Linked DNA regions of Homo sapiens: region 2 is linked to region 1. Evidence: fine-mapped expression QTL. Tissue or cell type: whole blood. Region 1 holds a variant in brackets; the other region holds the start of a gene. All regions are shown on one strand. Distances are from middle to middle.

Evidence for each region. PIP is the estimated chance that this variant, and not a neighbour inherited with it, causes the effect.
Region 2: ITGA1 starts here. The variant in region 1 is fine-mapped to the expression of ITGA1 in whole blood (TOPMed, PIP above 0.99).

What each region holds. Positions count from the first base shown.
Region 1 is chr5:52,815,656-52,826,093 of GRCh38, forward strand. All of the region lies in intron 1 of ITGA1 (integrin subunit alpha 1), which reads left to right. Among named protein-coding and RNA genes, the nearest start is that of PELO-AS1, 20 kb to the left of the region's middle. The variant T/G (reference allele first, on the strand shown) is at 4,442.
Region 2 is chr5:52,783,125-52,793,562 of GRCh38, forward strand. It overlaps ITGA1 (integrin subunit alpha 1), which reads left to right and starts at 4,792. Exons shown (of 29, transcript NM_181501.2): 1 at 4,792-5,290. The coding sequence starts at 5,230. PELO (pelota mRNA surveillance and ribosome rescue factor) reads left to right here and starts at 4,792. Exons shown (of 3, transcript NM_015946.5): 1 at 4,792-5,290. PELO-AS1 (PELO antisense RNA 1) reads right to left here. Exons shown (of 5, transcript NR_186455.1): 2 at 2,411-2,468. RefSeq lists an enhancer at 4,480-4,759.

The DNA.
Region 1 (10,438 bases):
GGAAAACACTGGTCTAAGGCTTTCAACAATAGCCTTGAATATCAATGAATGTCTACTTAGCAATCATCTTTTCCAGATGATTCTTATGTCTTAAAATAATGTTACTTCAAGAAGGTGCCTAATTGTAAGACATACTTACAGTAATAGTAGTTGGGTTGTGATGCAATTTGATAATGTGAGATTCTCTTAGAAAATAAAATTAGTAATAAATAACTACAGCTGAGTTTATAATCTTAATAAATTAAGGTAGCTTAATTTAAAATGTATAACTAAACAAAAACTAAGTCACAAAAACTCCTTGATGACATGAATAACATACAGCAGGGAGACAGTAGTAAGTAGTGGCTAAGGGGAAAGGCTGTGGAATTACACCACCTGAGTCTAATATCTAACACTGATTATTGAGGTGACTTACTGAAGTTTCCTCACCTGCAAACTAAGTTACAACCTATTGTGTTTTTTTAATTGATTGAGATTATTAACACTTTTTATAATGCCTGGTCCAGAGTAATGCTCCAAACATTTTACCTATTTTATATGCTAAATTTAAACTTAATCTTTTTGGGACTTAATATATATCCATGCACATCGAGCATATTTTAAATTCAGAAAGGAAACCAATATGCCAGCAGAAATAAAACAAATATTCTTGTTTTCAAATAAAGATCATTTCTTTATGAGAAAGATGAAAATTAACGATCTTTTAGAGATAGTTCAATGTTAGCCACTCACAGTCACAGGTTTAAACCGTGAAGTTAGTGTTTATTTTTATGAATCTAAAAACAATTGTTCCCAGCCATGGCATGAAGTCTTCCTATTGCCCCAACCCACATAAACACACTAGAAATTTTCATTCTTAGGGAGGGATAGGGAGGCTGGGGGCTACTGAATGGACATTTTGTTAGTTAAGAGCTCACTCACAGGCTGAAGGAGTGTGGAATAGGTCCACCATTAGCTATTCTGGCCATACCTCTCTTAGAGATTGGGGTCCTGGTTACCAACGAAGGACCATGTGGCCATATCCAGAGGGTTGGAGCAGGTCTCAGGGCCCATTGCCTGGCACACCTCCTCCCAGAATTCCTGAGGTATAACCTTCTCAGGAAGATAGCAGAGCTCTTTTCTAACACTCCGCTATTTCTGGAGAGTAGTGAGTATATTCCCCTCCAGGCCTTTTCACTTTTATTCAGAAACACAGGGAAAATAATAAAAGTCTGTCTGTATTATGACTAGCTACAACAGGTGGGGGTTTTCTTTGCAGTAATATTTTCAAGTGGTATCACCTAGCAGCTGGATTCCTTTGCCTTAACAGAATTGGCACCCTAAAAGCAAAAGAGATGGAAGCACTGGGAGTGATAAACTTTGTCAGTTTAGAATCAATTTAGATCAGTTTAAAACCATTCAAACTTGACACATTCAAAAGCTTTCAATGCTATCCACTAAGAAATCATATTTGAGGAATTTTTTTCCATTAAACATTTAGTCTGGCTTAAATATAGTAAGATGCTAATCTTTTCGAAACTTGTTTTTCTTTCTTTTTGTAAAAGTCAGTTGAGTTTAATATAACAAAAGGGCTGAATACCAGAGGTAGAGAAGGAAGTGTCCCAGGCTTGGTTTCAAGACAACTAGGTCCTGGATTCTACAACTAAGTGATTTTGTGACCTTGAGCATTACTAGCCATTGTGAGCCTCATTTATAAAGGAGGGATAAAGATTAAAATTATGAAATCTTTCTGTAAGTAATTGGCACACAGAATAGACGTTCAATAAATGTTAACTCTGTAGCCTAGGAGTGATCTGGTTACAAGCTTTGTTAAAACTCCTTCTTTAAGGAAATGTAAAAATAAATTGGTACTGTCAAAGCTTTTATGCCCAGGCCATGTAGAGATTATCTTCCTTCCAAAGAAACTAAAATGGATTGAGAAGACAAATATCATTCCAAGGAAAGGCTAGAAGTCTGCAAAATTATACAATTGTACTTTAGTGCACCAAAGATTAAAAATAATGCAGTCAGAATAACATTTATTTCATCTACCAGAATGTTACCCTATTTCTTGCCTTTGATTAGTTTAAGAATAGGAAACTAAGATAGTACAGACTTATAAAGATATAACGTATTTATAAATATGTATCTTTGCATATGCAAATTATAATATACATATTTTAAAAGTTTGCTTCAGTGAAATTTAGAGCATGAGCAGACAACCTATTTTTGGTGAAGAGTCAGAGATAATAAAGTTTTTAGCTTTTGCTGGCCACACAAGCTCTGTAGTGACTACTTGACTCTATCATGGTATGGCAAAAGCAGGTCTCAGGGCCACAGACAATAGTAAATAATAGGATATGATTGCGTTCCCATAAAACTTTATTTACATAAGCAGGTAGTGGGCAGGATTTGGTCTGTAGGACACAGTTTGTTGAACCCTGGCCTAGAGCATGATATAGAGTATGCTTACAAACTGGGCATAATTAAGATAACTATTCTAGAGGAAAAAGAATGTATATGCTTAGATTAACTCAGCAATTACATAAACACAACTGTAGTACATACATCTATTCTTTTAGCATCAAGGCTTGCTGAGTTGAAAAAAAAATGGTATGGTTCTCTAACTATATTCTGTTGAGTTGCTGGTGTGTAAATCACATTGTAACTGGCCACTATTACTTTTTGGAGTTCTAACATATGCTTATTTGCACATTAGGGTTTACTGTTTTTCTGTGATAGACAAATACTGAAATTTGATTCAGATCCATTACACAAATGGCCAAGACAGGATATTCTGTGAATTTCCTGGGAAGTATATTCAAGTATCACTTACCTGACAGCATCTGAGCCATTGTGTTATAAGGAATTTCCTGCAGGGATTGAATTAGTTAGGCTTAGCCCTCAGTGGTTTTGTAACTATTTCCCGCATTCACCTTAAACAATGCCTTTTAGAAGTGGTTTTTGGGTGATTCTTTTTCTCCAGGAAGAGATTATAAATAATGAAATGATTAGACCATTAGAGAATTTAAATCAGTAGAGAATGCTAATTTCTTTTTTTGTCATAGTAACAGAGCAAGCCAACTTAATCAGTGCCCTGACAAAGCATCCAGCACCAACACATACATTAGAAAGGTATCTAATTCCTCACCATTTTGGTATTCTAATTTTATAAATTTTAATTCTATTCCATTTTGAGAGTATCTAGGGATCAGAACCTTTATGGAAGACTAATAACTAGGTAAACACTATTACCTAGCTTAAGAGACCCTAAAATGTCAGTGACTTCATACCACAATGGTTTATTTTGCTCATGTATCTCATTCCTGTGTGAGTTAGATGACCCCAATCCCTCCTGTACTATGCCCTTGGGAACACACATCTCTATGGTTACAGTCAAAGGAGAGAGTTGTAGATAGAAAACGGCACACTTCCAAGTCTTTGCTATTGTGAATAGTGCCGCAATAAACACACGTGTGCATGTGTCTTTATAGCAGCATGATTTATAATCCTTTGGGTATATACCCAGTAATGGGATGGTGGGGTCAAATGGTATTTCTAGTTCTAGATCCCTGAGGAATCACCACACTGACTTCCACAATGGTTGAACTAGTTTACAGTCCCACCAACAGTGTAAAAGTGTTCCTATTTCTCCACATCCTCTCCAGCACCTGTTGTTTCCTGACTTTTTAATGATCGCCATTCTAACTGGTGTCAGATGGTATCTCATTGTGGTTTTGATTTGCATTTCTCTGATGGCCAGTGATGATGAGCATTTTTTCATGTGTCTTTTGGCTGCATAAATGTCTTCTTTTGAGAAGTGTCTGTTCATATCCTCTGCCCACTTTTTGATGGAGTTGTTTGCTTTTTTCTTGTAAATTTGTTTGTGTTCATTATAGATTCTGGATATTAGCCCTTTGTCAGATGAGTAGATTGCAAATATTTTCTCCCATTCTGTAGGTTGCCTATTCACTCTGATGGTAGTTTCTTTTGCTGTGCAGAAGTTCTTTAGTTTAATTAGATCCCATTTGTCAATGTTGGCTTTTGTTGCCATTGCTTTCGGTGTTTTAGACATGAAGTCCTTGCCCATGCCTATGTCCTGAATGGTATTGCCTAGGTTTTCTTCTAGGGTTTTTATGGTTTTAGATCTGACATTTAAGTCTTTAATCCATCTTGAATTAATTTTTGTATAAGGTGTAAGGAAGGGATCCGGTTTCAGCTTTCTACATATGGCTAGCCAGTTTTCCCAGCACCATTTATTAAATAGGGAATCCTTTCCCCATTGCTTGTTTTTCTCAGGTTTGTCAAAGATCAGATGGTTAGATATGTGGCATTATTTCTGAGGCCTCTGTTCTGTTCCATTGGTCTATATCTCTGTTTTGGTACCAGTACCATGCTGTTTTGGTTACTGTAGCCTTGTAGTATAATTTGAAGTCAGGTAGCATGATGCCTCCAGCTTTGT[T/G]CTTTTGGCTTAGGATTGACTTGGCAATGCAGGCTCATTTTTGGTTCCATATGAACTTTAATGTGGCACATATACACCATGGAATACTATGCAGTCATAAAAAATGATGAGTTCATGTCCTTTGTAGGGACATGGATGAAGCTGGAAACCATCATTCTCAGCAAACTATCGCAAGGACAAAAAACCAAACACCACATGTTCTCACTCATAGGTGGGAATTAAACAATGAGAACACTTGGACACAGGAAGGGGAACATCACACATCAGGGCCTGTTGTGGGTGGGGGGAGGGGGGAGGGATAGCATTAGGAGATACACCTAATGCTAAATGACGAGTTAATGGGTGCAGCACACCAACATGGCACATGTATACATATGTAACAAACCTGCACGTTGTGCACATGTACCCTAAAACTTAAAGTATAATAAAAAAAAAAAAGAAAAAGAAAATGGCACACTTGCTCTTGACTCCCTTGGCCGGAGGTGGAGGTAATACATTGTTAGTTCTGATCCTTGTTCATTGATGAGAACCAGCCCACATGGCTTCCACCTACTGCTAGGGACTCTGGGACATACAGACAAGCACATAATTATTTGGTGATATTTGGTGAGCCCTAACTGCCGCAGAAAAACTTTTGAAGCATTTAGTTCTCTCCCGAGACCAGAAATCAATCAGGTAAACATGAATAAGAAATTTATAGTATTATCTCAGTTTTTTTTTATTGGCTTTAACAAGAGCATATGCTGGGAGGATATTTGCTATATTCTGCTAGTTTCCCCAATTTAAGGTTGTCTGTTTTGATTAAAACCCCTTAGCCCAGTGGAAAGATGAAACTCTCATCTATTTAGTCCTTAATATCTCTATCACTAAATGGATAGGTTTCATGTACTCTTCAGTATTGATAGCCTACTTTCTAAGTGTGTGTGTGTATGTGCATGTGTTTCTGCCATTACAGTCATTGTATGAAACAATTATGTATTCTGACAACAGCTAGCACAGATTTATCTATTTAATAAATGTTGGTTGATTAATAGATAAAGGCACGTTTATATATACCAGCAAATACGAAGACTTGGATTCAGTAAAGTTTGATACCATTCAATAGCATTAAGATTAAGGATGACTGTGACGGCCTTTAGTTTGCATTTTTAGACTGCTTAATTTGGGTCAATGTTTCTCAAAGTTATCTCCAGTGGTCTAAACTGTTAAATCTGTTCCGAAGTCTAGGAACCTATGTCAGTCAAAAAAGTATGTTTTTAGACAGCTCTCCTCACCCCATTCCGTGTGAAGATGGCCCCACTGATATTCATAAAAAATAAGAATATTCCCTCCCAATGAATGTTGCTATAAGGAAATTTGCTCATACAGAATTGGTAAATGGAAAAATGATGTCACTATAATACATAAGTCACTATAATTCAGTTTTCCCTAGCACCTTAATGTTTATACTACCAATGCCACCACTTGAATGCCAAATACACTAAGAGTTGGACACAGTAAGCATATACTCATACAGTATTGTAAGGAATTCCCATTCTCCTTGTATTCTTCCTCTTTGCCTAGTTTTGCTGTGTGTGATTTCTTGGAAGGGCTTATATAATTGGCCCCAAACTTAGTTCATTTTGCCCTTGTCCCCACAACTATTCAGCCTTAACATTTTCTTACTTCATTCCACTGTAATCATTTATTTAGTATAGAATTTATTAGGAATCTAAATGCCTTTAAAATTATGCTAGTATTTTTATTTGAGTTGTTTCGACTTTATGTTTTAGCTAAAAAGGTGTATGGACTTTGAGTTGACTGCCCCAACTCTGTTTTTATCATAAGCTGTATGATTTTTATGTGTGATTTTGTAGAAAACACAAGATTGCTTTTAGGAATGAATATATCACATTATAATAGAAATATCTGTTTTCTTGCAACTTAAATTGCATATATTTTATGAATGGAAGAATGTCAACAACAAAATTGGCAATGGGACTATTTGAGAATTTGCCATGTGGAGGCCGTTTCCTGACCTTTTATCCTTTATATGCTAGAGTGCTTTAGAGTTTCCAAATGGTGTTCATATGTGGAATTTTATGTCAATCCTTGAACAATACTACAAGGATCATTATTAACATTTCTACTTGATAGACTTGGAAATCAAGGCTCAGAGGAGACAAATGTTTTGCCTACAGTAGATTGGTGACAACATTCTGGCTATAATTAGTTACTCTATTCAAATAAACATATTTGAGCTTCGATTTTACTTAGGGCACTGGGGATACAAAGATAATTAAAATGAAACTCAGTCCTCATCCAACCAGTTGCCTCTCTTCTTCCTCCCACTGATTCAGGGACACTTCCGTTTGGACTGGGCAGAGCTAGACAATCTCAAACTCATAGAGGCATCTGCATTGCTAGTTTCCTAGAAGAGCTGGAGGCTGAGTATCCGGACTGCTCTGCATAGGGGATATGGGACACTTAGGTGGCTCCTGGCCAAGTGGCCCAAGCCTGTTGCTGACTGGAAGTCTGTCACTTGGCTCTCCTCCCTCGCCAGTTCGTATTGTAGCCTCTACCCTTGACACTGTCTCACCCAGTGGAAACACAGCTGCAAGAGCTGCAGAAGGCCTATTACTTCTAATCTTTCTGCTTCGTATGATCGGTAATTACACCCCAGGGACACATAATGAAGATGGTTCATCACTGCTTTTTATGTGCTTCATAGTGTGAGATAGTGGACTGGGAACTTGAATCAGAGCAAGAAAATTGTTTTCTGCTCTAGGTTTGGTCACTTAAACTAGCCACAGTATATTAGGCAAAATATTTCAACTGCTTGGGCATCAGTGTTCTCATCATTTGAGGACACTGTCTCATTAGATGGTCGAATAGGGACTTTTCCAGCTATAGCCTTCTGAGATTCCTCAAGGACACATCGAGTTTGTATTGCATGGTCAAAAGAGGGCTCCAAGGAACCAGGTCTAACAAGCTTTAAGGTGAGTGAGTTCTCTCAATGGTGCCCCGACTTTCCTGACATCCTTCTGAATCTTAGACAAGCCTCGGAGAGAGATACTCATGGAATGACCAAAATGGTAGCACCAGATCTGTATGAGGTATTTAATCATTTTATTTTATTTTAATTTTTAGACAGAGTTTTGCTCTGTTGCCCAGGCTGGAGTGCAGTGGTACGATATTGGCTCACTGCAACCTCCGCCTCCCGGGTTCAAGCAATTCTCCTGCCTCAGCCTCCCGAGTAGCTGGGATTATAGGCTTGCGCCACCATGCCCAGCTAATTTTTGTATTTTTTAGTAGAGATGGGGTTTTGCTCTGTTGACCAGGCTGGTCTCAAACTCCTGGCCTTAAGTGATCCACCCACCTCAGTCTCCCAAAGTGCTGGGATTGCAGGTGTGAGCCATGGCACCTATCCAAATCATTTTAAATGGTGATGATTATGTCCAATAAGTCCATCTTATTCTCTTGGGCATCTCAACCTTTTCCTGCCTTAGGAAAATGGAGGTCCTCTAACTCCTAAGATCTTGTCACATGATCCTGCTGTAGGCAGAACCCACACCAGTTAAATGTTTATTTACTTGATCAATGTTTAGCCTGTGGTTGGCTTTTAAATATCCCAACGGAGACTGAGAAAGCAGTGCAGAGAGTGCTAAAATACAGACAAAGGAAAAGAAAGAATTGGAAACTAGGAGAAAACAAGGAAAAAAGAAGGGGAAAGTGCTTTCAGCATTTCTTTTCAACTTCCTCTACATGCTTAGAAAACAGAATTGACTTTTGTATGTCTGTGGTAGCTTTACAAATAAATTAAACATATTATCAACGTTTGCCAATTTATTTTACAAGTATACGGAATATCATTAGCACATTCTGGTGATAGTATGTCAGATATTTAAAGAGCTCTAGCTTGAAGAAAATGGGCCTTACTTTAAGAGTGCTATATTTGTTTTATGTTCTCATACTTAATGATCTGGGACCTAATTTTCTTCAGCCCTGATTATGCTTTGTTTCATGACCTTTAATATATATATATAGTAATCATTAAATCAAATAATTATAAGTCACTTACCAAAGGAATTAAATATGGAAAATGCATTTGAATATGTACATGATTCATCCACATTTTAATATCTATCCTTACTTCTGTTTCCTTTTGTCTCCCATTAATGATAAAATAGCTGAGAAGATTGTTCTCTCTTTTCTTTCTTTTTTTTTTTTTTTTTAGACGGAATCTTGCTCTGTTGCCCAGGCTGGAGCGGAATGGCATGATCCCAGCCTATGGTGACCTCTGCCTCCCGAGTTCAAGAGATTCTCCTGCCTCAGGGTCCCGAGTAGCTAGGATTAAAAGCATGTGCCACCACGCCCTGCTAATTTTTGTATTTTTAGTAGAGATGGGGTTTCACATGTTGCTCAGGCTGGTCTTGAACTTCTGACCTAAAGTGATCCGCCTGCCTTGGCCTCCCAAAGTGCTAGGATTACAAGCATGAGCCACTGTGCCCGGCCAGATTGTTCTCTCTTAATGGGCTGATAAGTAACCAAGTAAAACATATTGTACTTTTACCCCATGCTAGAGGCAGCAAGCCCAAGCTGCAGAATGCCCAATTACACAATCCTCTATTAGCCACCAAAGAGAAGATACTTTTAAATTTGTATTACATTATTTAAATAGAAAAAATAAAGACAGAAGATCCTTTAAAAAGCAAACTGGATAAATAGTACTTCAGAATTCTATATATTATTTGTTACAACTGCATGTAAACCTATAATTACCTCAAAATGAAAAGTTTAGTTTTTAAACAAAGCCTATTATTGTATGATTAAGGTGGATAATTGAGCTGCTTCTTATTTTTATTATAGTAAAATATACATAAAATAAAATGTATTATTTTAACTGCTTTAAAATTGTAATTCAGTGGCATTAAGTACATTTACAAGGTTGTGCAATATTGTGAACCACTGTCTGTTTCAGAACTTTTGTTACTACATCCAGTGGAAATTCTGTATCTGTTACTCTTATTCCTCCCTTCCCTCTGCTCCTGGGAACTACAGATCTGTTTTCTGTTCCTATTAACATGCCGCTTTAAATAATATTTCATATAAATGAAATCAGACAATAAAAAGGTATTTTGTGTCTGGCTTCTTTCACTTAGTGTGATGTTTTCAAGATTCATTCATGTCATAGTATGTATCAGTATAGGCCCATCTTGTTTTAATGCACTTCACTTTATTGTGCTTCATAGATACTGCGTTTTTCACAGATTGAAGGTTTGTGGCCCACTCTTCACTTGAACAAGTAACAGCAAGTGCTCATTTTGTGTCTCTATGTCACATTTTGGTAATTCTCGCAATTTCAAAATTTTTCCTTATTATTATATCTGTTATGGGGCCTTGTGATCAGTGGTGCCAGGAACTGTGCCTATATAAGATGGAAATTTTGATAAGTGTGTGTGTTCTGACAGCTCCACTGACCAGCTGTTTCCTTCTCTCTCTCCCTTTTCTTGGGCCTCTCTATTGCCTGAGGCACAAAAGTATTGAAATTAGTCTAAAATAGGCAGGGCACAGTGGCTCATGCCCGTAATCCCAGCACTTTGGAAGGCCAACACAGGCAGATCACAAGGTCAGGAGATCGAGACCATTCTGGTCAACATGGTGAAACCCCGTCTCTACTGAAAATGCAAAAATTAGCTGGGCGTGGTGGCGCCTGCCTGTAATCCCAGCTACTTGGGAGGCTGAGGCAGGAGAATCGCTTGAACCAGGGAGTCAGAGGTTGCAGTCAGCTGAGATCATGCTACTGCACTCCAGCCTGGGTAACAGAGTGAGACTCTGTCAAAGAAAAAAAAAAAAAAAAGGAAAGAAGTTAGTCTAAAATAACCTTACAGTGGCCTCTAAGTGTTCAAGTGAAAGGAAGTCACACATCTCTCACTTTAAATGAAAAGCTAGAAATGACTGCGCTTAGTGAGGAAAGCATATTGAAAGCCAAGATAGGCCAAAGCTAGGCCTCTTGGT
Region 2 (10,438 bases), 33 kb before region 1:
TATTATCTCAGAGCCAAATAATAGACTCCCTTCCCTTGATGCATTTATTTTGTATTAAAGACAAATGGTATTTCCCCACACATGTGTTTAGTGACCCAGTCCTACCACAAGAAATGCCAGTCTCCTTGGTTTGAAATACTAATTAATCATTTTTTGTTGTAATTCTGGGATTTTAGAGCCCACTTACTTTATTTAACTTTTTACAAATTGGTTAAAAGAAAATAATTAAATCAACCTGTTCAAATGATCCTAGAATTGCATAACAGCTTAAATATAATTAAGTCATATTTCAAATTAAGGGACCCAGCAATGCAGCTAAAATGTTACTGCTCATCAGTGGTTGTTATTCTGAGTCATAGAATGCCACGAATTGAACATTCCTGCCAGGGCACCACCCTGGTCCACCCTCCCCTGCTGCAGCCCTGGTGTGTCACTCATGTTGAAGTCTGCCAGTAAGTCCAAGGAAGTTTCCTATAGTGTTGAGAACTGTTCCTCACCAGGATTCTGAAGTCAAGTATTTTGTTTTTTTGTTTTTTCTTAAGTACCAGTTGCCCAAATGTCTTTGGACAAGGTTTCTGGCACAGGCTTGTTCAGGAAATAGGGAGGGAGAAACACCTATTTTATATTTTAAGTGAAAAAACACACAGGAATATTACGTAATAACAAAAAACAAATGGTTGGCTCATGGTGAAGTTTAAGTTCCATATCACTGTGACTTTATTTTGGTCAGAGAGGAAGCAATCATAGGTTCTCAAGGTATATCAACAACAACTATTAGGATAATTTCACTAGACTGTTTAATTTAATAGGCTTAAAATGAAATATGCCAATGTTACAATTGAGCACAAAACTACTTATTTTCTCTTCCTAGTTACAAGTGAAAGAAATTAATGAACAGCAGGTTTGCAGTGGAATAACAACTGTTGTATCCATTTTTGCCTCTGCAGAACATAGCCCTGGAGCCCAATATATGCCAGAAAATTAAAAATTATTGAACTAGACTAAGTTTTCCATATGAGTTAGCTTTGTGAGTTAGCCCCACTGTTTTGGGGTATATTCCCCTAAGTGCTTACATACTAAAACTTAAAAATCCAAATCTTCATAAAATCTTTGTAAAAACGGAAGCAGTTCTGTACACTTCCACCTACCCCTAACACCTGAGAGTGGAGGGGATGGGGTTGGGGTAAAACCACACTTTGATGCTACCTTAAAATGTATTTAAAATCTCATATTTGACTTTTAAAAAGAAAACATGATTTAAAAATATTTCTTATAAAAATCTGTTATTTTAGCAAACAACAATTTTTAAATTATTTATTTTTGAGTAAAATCAGCACCACCCCCACTACCCAGGTGGGAGTACCTTATTTATCCTGTAGCTTTGAGAACCTATAATCTTACTGCTAAAGAACCCTGGCATACATTAGACACGGAGTTCTAGAACCTCTTCTATTCCCCCAACCTCTTAGCGGAATGTTCTTCTCTTGTAAAAAAATTAAAAAAAAAAAAAAAAAAAAAAAACCTCTGACGGCCAGCCAATTTGAAAAGCAAATTCATGTGAACGTTATAATGGGTTCTGATGTCTTCATGCATACCCATTTTATAGAACTATCTTCAAGATAATTCCCTAATCCAAGGTAAATATTTTTAAAGCGAGGATTCCAGAAATAATAATAGGAGTTGATGGAGATATTTTTAGGCGGACATTAAAGTTCCTCTTCTGATGGCCATCAAATTTCACCACTTCCTACAGGGTCTACCACACGCAGAGCCTGCCCTGTTTACATGGTCTGTTTAATACCAATTCTTCTATTTACAGAGAAGAATGATTCATACTAACCGAGCACTTACTTTAATCCAGGCATTGTGCTAAATGCTCAGAGGCTCGGTTCATTTAATCCCCACAGCAATTCTCAGACCAGAAGTAGTACAGTATTTTCATTCCCACTTTACATTTGAGAAAACTGAGGCTTAGATAAACTTGATGACGTTTCCCAAATCACACAGCTACTATATTGTGGTTCCAGGACTTGAGTCCAAGCAGCGTAACTCCAGAACCTTACTTACTCTAGTTACTTTACTCAGTATATTAGATTAACTCCAAGAAGAATACTTTGGTTTTAAGTATATGTTTTTCTTTTTGAGATTATTGGTTAATAATCTCAATTACTCTTGCCTCATTTCATAGACATCCACTTTCCAAATTCTTAATCAGTTCAGTCTCTAATCTTTCAGTGCAGCCATCCCCAACCGTTTTGGCAGAGAGACCGGTTTCATAGAAGGCATTTTTTCCACAGACCAGGGGTAGGGGAAACGGTTTCAAGATGATTCAAACACATTACATTCATTGTGCACTTTATTCCCATTATAATTATGTTATAATATATAATGAAGTAATTATAAAACTCACCATAATGTAGAATCAGTGGGAGCCCTCAGCCTGTTTTCCTGCAACTAGACGTTTTCATCTGGGGATGATGGGAGACAGTGACAGATCATCAGGCATTAGATTCTCATAAGAAGCGTGTGCAGTTCACAATAAGGTTCATGCTCCTACTCATGCTTCCAAACCCTTAAAGAGATCTGATCAAATCAAGTCTCATTTAAAATAGAAAAGTATGTAGTATAAAGTCTAGAGCTGAAACATTTGTCATCAAGTGTCTCATATCAATAACTAGTTTGTGACTCTGGGCAAGTTTCTGTCTTCTCTAAATCTTTACTCAATGACATGTCTTTCTGTCAGTCAGAATAAAATTGGTTAAGAAAATAACCGGCTTGACATTTATTTGTATTTGGGTTTATTGAAGTTCAGAAAATAAGCACTGATTCTAAAATTAATTCTCTAACCATAGTTATCTCTCAGTCTCTACATTTGTATTGACTAGACATATAAAAGATTCATAAATATGTAAACATGTAAACATAAAATTTGTAACTTGTGAAAATTAATTGTAACAATATCACTGTTAGTGATGGTTATCACCAATAATTTGTAAGTCCTAGAGGAAATAAAAATATTAAAATTGAAATTATATATTAGCCCCCAGAAGAAAGGTAAATTTCCCAGTAATTGTAAACTTGAACATATTATATGTTAACCCTACTTTATTTCAATATTTTACAATTTCTTTTTGTTTTTTCTAATGAAATATATTGCAATTTGCTAAAATGCCATATATGTATTTGCATATGTATGTATATGCTGTACATATATATGTACACATACATACATACACATGATTGTGTATATATAGACACACTATTATATGTTTTTGAAAACTAAGCAATTTGGAGAAATATCATTGGGAAAGTACTTACTATGATTTTTAAATGTCTACGAATTAATCAATATCTATTGGTTACTGTTCAAAGCACAGAGAGTCATACTGAGAGGCATAAGACATAACTGATACTACCAACAGGGAAACGAGATATACACAGGAAATGAATTCCTTGGCAGGGTATGAGAGCATTGAACACAAACAAAGGAACTTAAGTAAAGTCCAATGGGATTGAACTGTGACCCAACATAATACAATTTTTCTAGAGACTCATTTGTGTAAATTTGAAGACAGAACTGAGAAATGACATTATAAAAACTAAAAACGGGAGAACGAGATTTTTAATGTATTTACTAAATAGTGAATCAGTTCAGATACATAATAGAAAAGGAATTTCTTGATTAATGGGTCAACATACTGAGATCTGATGGCCTTCAACCTCCTTGGGTCTGCCCACCCCATTTTTGACGCTCCTTAAACTTCTTCAACTTTTGTCTTCTCCAGCTTTTAGTTGCTGTGATCCTCTATCTGGCAATGTATCCAGTGAACCCTGTGGGCTTCTTCCTTCCTGTCCCTCGTGTTACCTGTTCTGTGCTACCTGTGTTGCGTTCTGCTCAACGAACCCTCCTTTGGGTGGCACTCTTGTCCTGCCTAGCCCTAGTTCTGCTAGAGATGCTCAATTAGTTGTTGAGTTGAAGAATTGAATTGAACTGTTTCCCTCAGATTCCTCTAAACACAAATCCACTTATTCTTTCTGTCTTTGAAATTCTCAAAACCGCTAAGACACAGCTATTTTGAAAATAGCCAGCATTGGTTGAAGCTAGGGTGAATATGGCTTTTGACTCAGAGAGGTTGTTCAACTCACCAGGAAAGGGAAGCATTGCAAGTTCCTAAGCACTTCTGGACTCTTAATGCATTTTCACTCGTGAAAGTTTCAAGCAAGAAAAAAATAAAGTAGTGCCCCGAGTTCTTTATTAGATTCAATTACCAGCGTACAAACATCCTAATTCACTTAAACAAAATAGCCCACACACATTCCATTTCCAAGGAGGCTGCTTTTCTTCCTCTCTTCCCTTCTCGCTCTCCCTCTTACTGTTTTTCCTCCGTCTTGCTTCTCCTTTTCTCCCCTTATCCTAGTTATCTCAAAGAAAAGCTTATCTGCAACCACCCTTTAACCACGAATTACCATAAACGAAGCAACCCCCCCACCCCCCCATAAGCGAAAGCAAAGCCCTCAGTGGAGCCTGTCGGGGTGGTGGGGACGCCCCCTTTCGTGCAAAACGACTTCACGGTGAATTTCAAGTGTCCGCAGGGGATGGAAGGGGGGATTCCAGATCCTCGCATTTTCACAGACGGCCTAATCCCTCTGCGCAATGGACCCGGGAAAGCTGCCTCCCGTTAAGGGCGCCCAGGCACTGTCAAAGCGCCCTCCCTGCCCGGGCCGGGAGAAGTAAGGGGTGTGAAGGCGGAGCCACTGGGCTGGCAACACCCTCCCGAAGGTCCAGCCCTTACCCGCCTTCCTACCACCTTAGGGGATTTGGCCCGGAGAACGAGATCACCCTCTCAATGAAAGGCAGATGTCCCTTTAAGGTTTGCTTCTACAGCCCGTGGACTTTAGCCTAAACACGGACCCGCGAAGCTGGCTTTATTTGTCCATGTCTCGGACAGAGCCTGGGAAGCTGCCAGTGAGATTTCAGAGACCAAGAGCGCGAAGGGGCGGGCGATGTGGCAATCCGTCTGGGATGTGAAAAGCGTGGAGCGCATTTAGAGGAATTCGACGAAAACACAGGAAATCACTCCTCTCCCGCTCCTGGGCGCCGCTGCCACTGGGGCAGAGGACTGGGAACCGCGGCAGCGGGATAAGTGGCCCAGCCAGAGAGCGCAGCTCCCGCGCCCGGTCCTGCCCTGCGAACCAGCGCGGCCCCCTGGCGCTGAGGCTGCTCCGGCCATGGCCCCTCGGCCCCGCGCCCGCCCAGGGGTCGCTGTCGCCTGCTGCTGGCTCCTCACTGGTGAGCGACTCGCTTTTCTCTGAGCATCTCCTGCTCGCGGGCTTGGGGCTTGGAGCGGGGAGGGAGGTCCTCAGAGCCATGGGCCAGATAGGAAGAGAGAGCGCCCATCCACTTTCGGGCATTCCAGGTACTCAGGCCAGGCTACGGGGCAGGCAGGAGTTTCGCGTTCTGGTTTTGATATGAATTAGTTTTCGTGTCTCTCCAAAGTCCTTCACCCTAGGAGTAGGAGTGAGGCAGCACTGAAAACCTTAGAAGGTAGAATTCACTTTTAAAATTAAAGTTGTTTTTACAATACACATTGTATATTAGGACTTTGCTGAATATTTCCTCCCCTCCACCCTTTTTTATGGCATGGGATGGGAGGGTGATGCTTATAGGGCGCCTGATACATATGCAAAATTCCTACCCTCGGGTTGTTCCAGAGTGGACATTATTGAATTTTCTTGCTGTCTACTATTTAGGCTTTTTTCCCATGCAGAACAAGAAAAGGCAGGGATGCAAGACGAAACTGCCACTTGTTCCAAAATGATGTTTCTATGTCAGCACCCAAGAGGAGGGATATTTTGAAACGTAGAAAGGAATGGTGAACATTTTCTCTGTAAATATCACAGGGCAGTCTACTTTTAAGATGCAAAATATAGTATTGTTATTTGTACATAAATGTGTATTTTTAAGGAGGGGACTTAAAAACATAGTGGAAATGCAAAGTTGTATCCAATTTAGAAAAAGCTTGAAATATAGCATTTTGTAAGATTTTCCCAATAATGAACTCATGGTCAGATCTTTTTTACCAGTTACTGATTGGGGTGGGGGAAAGTTGAAATGGTGAAAAATGGAAGAAGGTGGGGGGAAAGTGTATCGATAGAATCTCTGTGTGAAAGAAAATCACCTTATTAATGGGTTAATTAACAGCTGGCTTTAACATATCATTGATATTCAATTGTTCAGTGTTTTTACTGCTGGCATGGTTATTAGTACTAGTTAATTTAGCATTTTTACCACTAAAAACAGGGTAGAGCCAGCTAGTTTAGACCTGCCTTAGATGGCCAAGCATTGTTAAGTTTTATGAAGATGATTTAGAAGTTGATTATCAGCAAGCAGAGCTTTTTTCAGAAGGGAGGTAATGTAAAGAGAGTTAATAATTAGCTACTGGCTTTTCATCCAAACATTTCCCACTACTCAGGAAATGTCCAATAATCCAAACAGTGGTAACTGCTGAACAGCATTATAGCCGGTGAGTGGTTTAACTTACCAGCTACTGCCACTACTTTTTACACATATTTGACCTATGATTCTTCTCCAACTCAAATTTTTTTAGATTGTATTTTGTTGTTTTTGTGCAAAATCTGAATACAGTAGTTTACTATCCAAGTTGTACTTTTTCATTCTACCAAATAAGCAGTCTCTAGAGTAGAAATGATGAAATGAGGTTTGCGTATCCTCTAAAAAGACAAGAGTGAAACTTGAAGTAACAGAGAAGTTTAACAAGTTACAATTTCATATATATGTTGGTGAAATATACATTGGTGAATCCAGGAAGAGACTTAAAATATTTAGAAACCTTGTGTGCACTATATTTATGCCCATTTCGCAACACATGAGGGATCTGAAATTGGACTGCTTTCCCATCAGTCATTATATTCTGTAGGCTCTTCTTTAGCAATCTCTTTCAGATTTGGAAACTTCTCATCAATTCAGAGTCCGTTTGTAACCTGGGGACTCATCACCATACTTATCCATGCACACTACTGTAGAGCTTATCTTTCTGTCTTCAATTTGAACCCAACTTCCAGTCTACCCTCCTAATACATCATTTTTACTATATCTGTTTTTAGTCAAAAATCTTTGGTGGTTCTTTGTTGCCTTTAAGATAAAATCCAAAATTCTCAACTGACTGCCCTAATCCAACACCCTCTCTCTATCTCCTACTACTCCTATGTCAGTTTCTTATTGCTGTTGTAACAACTTGCCATAGATCACCAGCTTAAAACAACATAAATTTACTATTGTACAGTTCTGTAGGTCAGAAGTATCACTGGGCTAGAATCAAGATGTCACCAGGGCTGCATTTCTTCTGGAGGTTCTAGGGGAAAATCAGTTTCCCTGTTTTCACCAGCCTCTGGCCACCACCTGCATTCTTGGCCTGTGGCCCCTTTCTCCATCTTCAACCGAGCAGGGTAGAATCTTCAGATCTTCCCCCATGACTCTGCTTTATCATCACATCTCCTTCTCAGACTCTGACCCTACTACCTTCCTAAGGATCCTTGTAATTACAATGTGCCTACCAGAATAATCTCCTCATCTCAAGATCTTTAATTTAATTACATCTTCCAAGTCCCTTTTACCATCTAAGATAACATATTCACAGGTTCCAGGCATTAGGTCATGGATATCTTTGGGAGACCATTATTCTGCCTACCACAACCCATAAGCATAAACTGTCCATTATAGCCAATCACTTTTCTTTACTTTCTCCATAATCCTCATGTTCATTTTGCCACTGAAGATATGACCTTGTTTTATACATCGAGAAAAGAATTCCACCTTTCCATCCTACCACCCTCTGACATCTAAATAAACTCTCTACAGCCTTCCAAACTGGGTTTACATCAGAACAACAAGCCACCAGCATCCCAATAAACTTCCTATTTGATTTAGACTGTCTTATATTAGCTCCTTACAACGTTTACTAAAATGATTCATCAAAAAGATGTCCTTATGTCCAAAGGATTGTTATTTTATGTATGTCAAAGTCTCAGCATAAACTGATGTCACATATAAAGGATTTAACTGAAGACAGTTTCATAAAGTGACAGTTTAGAGAGGCCTTAAAGGAACAAGAAAAGAGGGTGGAGCATCTAGCGCAAGCAACAGTAGGGAAAAAAGAACCTGAAGCAAGGTGAGAAGAAAAACCATGACCATTCCTAGGCCTGAGGAGGTGGCAGTGTTAGTTTGATTATGAACTCTAGTTATGGGAGGGTGGCCATTAGACTGGAGTTGTGGTCATAAAAAGGAATGCAGCTAGTGACAAAATTGAAGCCCAGCAGAGAAGGAGTAAGGAAAATAAATATACCTCCTTTCCTCCCACCCTCTGATGTCTTGCTCAGCCTTCCCATTGGCCATCCCCAAATGGCAAGATCCAACCTTCCAGAGAACAAAGGGCAAGACAATCAATAACAGAATAGCTAGCACAACTTAACCCCGAAATGTATTATGTGCAAGGCACTGTGCCAAGGGCTTTGCATGTATTATTTCATTTTAATCTAAAAAATTAAGTTTACTAATTGATCACAAGCAGTCACAGATTTCTTTGTTCTTTTTTCACTCCCTCAGCTTGTTGATTAGCCTTGAAAAAAAGAAAAGAAAAAATTAAAACTTTATAACTATTATCAATATTTTAGAGATGAGGAAATCAAAATATAGTATTAAGAAGTTAATTTCATTTGTCCAAAGTTGAAGAACTAATGACAAATCTACTCAATTCATATCTCTGACCTCAAATTAAATGCTCTAAAATAATATGCTATATTGGCTGCCTAAAGATAAGTTCATTCTCTCTTGCTCACTCCTCTAAATGTGAAATCCAAACATAGTTGTCTAAAATACTTGGATAAAGACCTAATTAATGATACAAGTCAATCTTTTATTTCCATGATTTTTAGGTGTACAGCATTAAGTGTAACTCAAGTAAGACTACTATTTCTCGTTATTAAGAATATAAATATAGAATTAGCCCTAATTAAACTATATGTCTCTCTTCCCTAGAAACATTTTGGTTGGCCTAGAAGCAAGGGTCTTCTTTTCACAGGCAAGATTTCCTATTCAAAATGAAATCCAGTGAGGAGATGGGAGATGGCTGAATATGGGGAGGAAGTCAGCCACTTATTCAAAACAAAGAATGACTCCCAATGGCAGACAATGTATTGTCAGGAATTGCTGAAGATGGTGAAAATTGTCTTACTCATTGTGATGTTTGTAAAGGCAGCAATGAATTCACGGGATTTTTGTTTGTTTAGTAAACAGGCAATGAGAGTAACCATGAGACACATATATATGCTATACTAGTTTAACTATTTCTCTTCCCTCCTGTCATAACACTTACCCAGCTATTTTGAAGCATGAGCTCTTGGGCCACAGCTTATCACTGATGTTCTGACTTCAGTAGATAGATGCTCCTCTAACATGTTCCTCCACTTCCAACCCAATAAACTTCCCACTAGATTTAGAACTTGCTGAATTTCCACATCTTAACATATTTTAGTAGAATAAAGTAGCTCATGTTTAAAATATATTTAGAAAAGTTGGGGACTAAAATGCTATTCTTTACCTACACTTCTCTTCTGTTGTGTGAAATACAAAATAGTGTACTCAAATTCATGTTAAGAAACTGAGATGAAAGATATTTTGAAACTGTTGCCACAGTGCTAAAGTCAGAATAGATTGCCTATTCAGAGCAGTCTGTGACTGGAGAATTGTATTCGCCCTCAAAGCAAGTACAGTAGAGTATCAAGAGATGCAAATGACTGCATATATTTCTATCTTCAAGATTATTGAGCTTCTTTCAGCTCCTTTATTATGCCAGCTACTCTAAAGTCTCCTTGGGGACTTTGCATAAGTAGTTACTCCCACTGCTACTGATCTCAATCCCTGAATAAACGTCATTTCCAAGAGATACCCTGAAGTAGATTGGACCCTACCTTAGGACATGTGTATCCCAGCACCTTTGCTTCTATTATATAATGCACCACGGTATTATAATTAACTATCTAATTGCCTGTCTTTCCAGCTTGCTGTATGCTCTGTGAGGGTAGGATCTTTAACCATAACACCTAGAAATAATAGGCACTTTTTAATTGAATGAATCGCAAAAGAATTGACTATTGACAAACTCAGAAAATACTTAAGGGATCAGATTGTCCCTTTATTATATACCTCTGCCTTATTTTATTATACCTCTGCCTGAAATATTTCTGTCTATCCAAATTTATAAATAATGGAATGGAAGACACCATCAGTTGAAAGATGCACCATTATTTTATGTACCACTAAAAAAGACAAGCCACTCCCAATCCAATTATAATTGCTAGATTGTTAGATAGTTCCTAGTTTCAGAGATGTCAAAATTGGGAAAATGTGCGTCTGAAAATT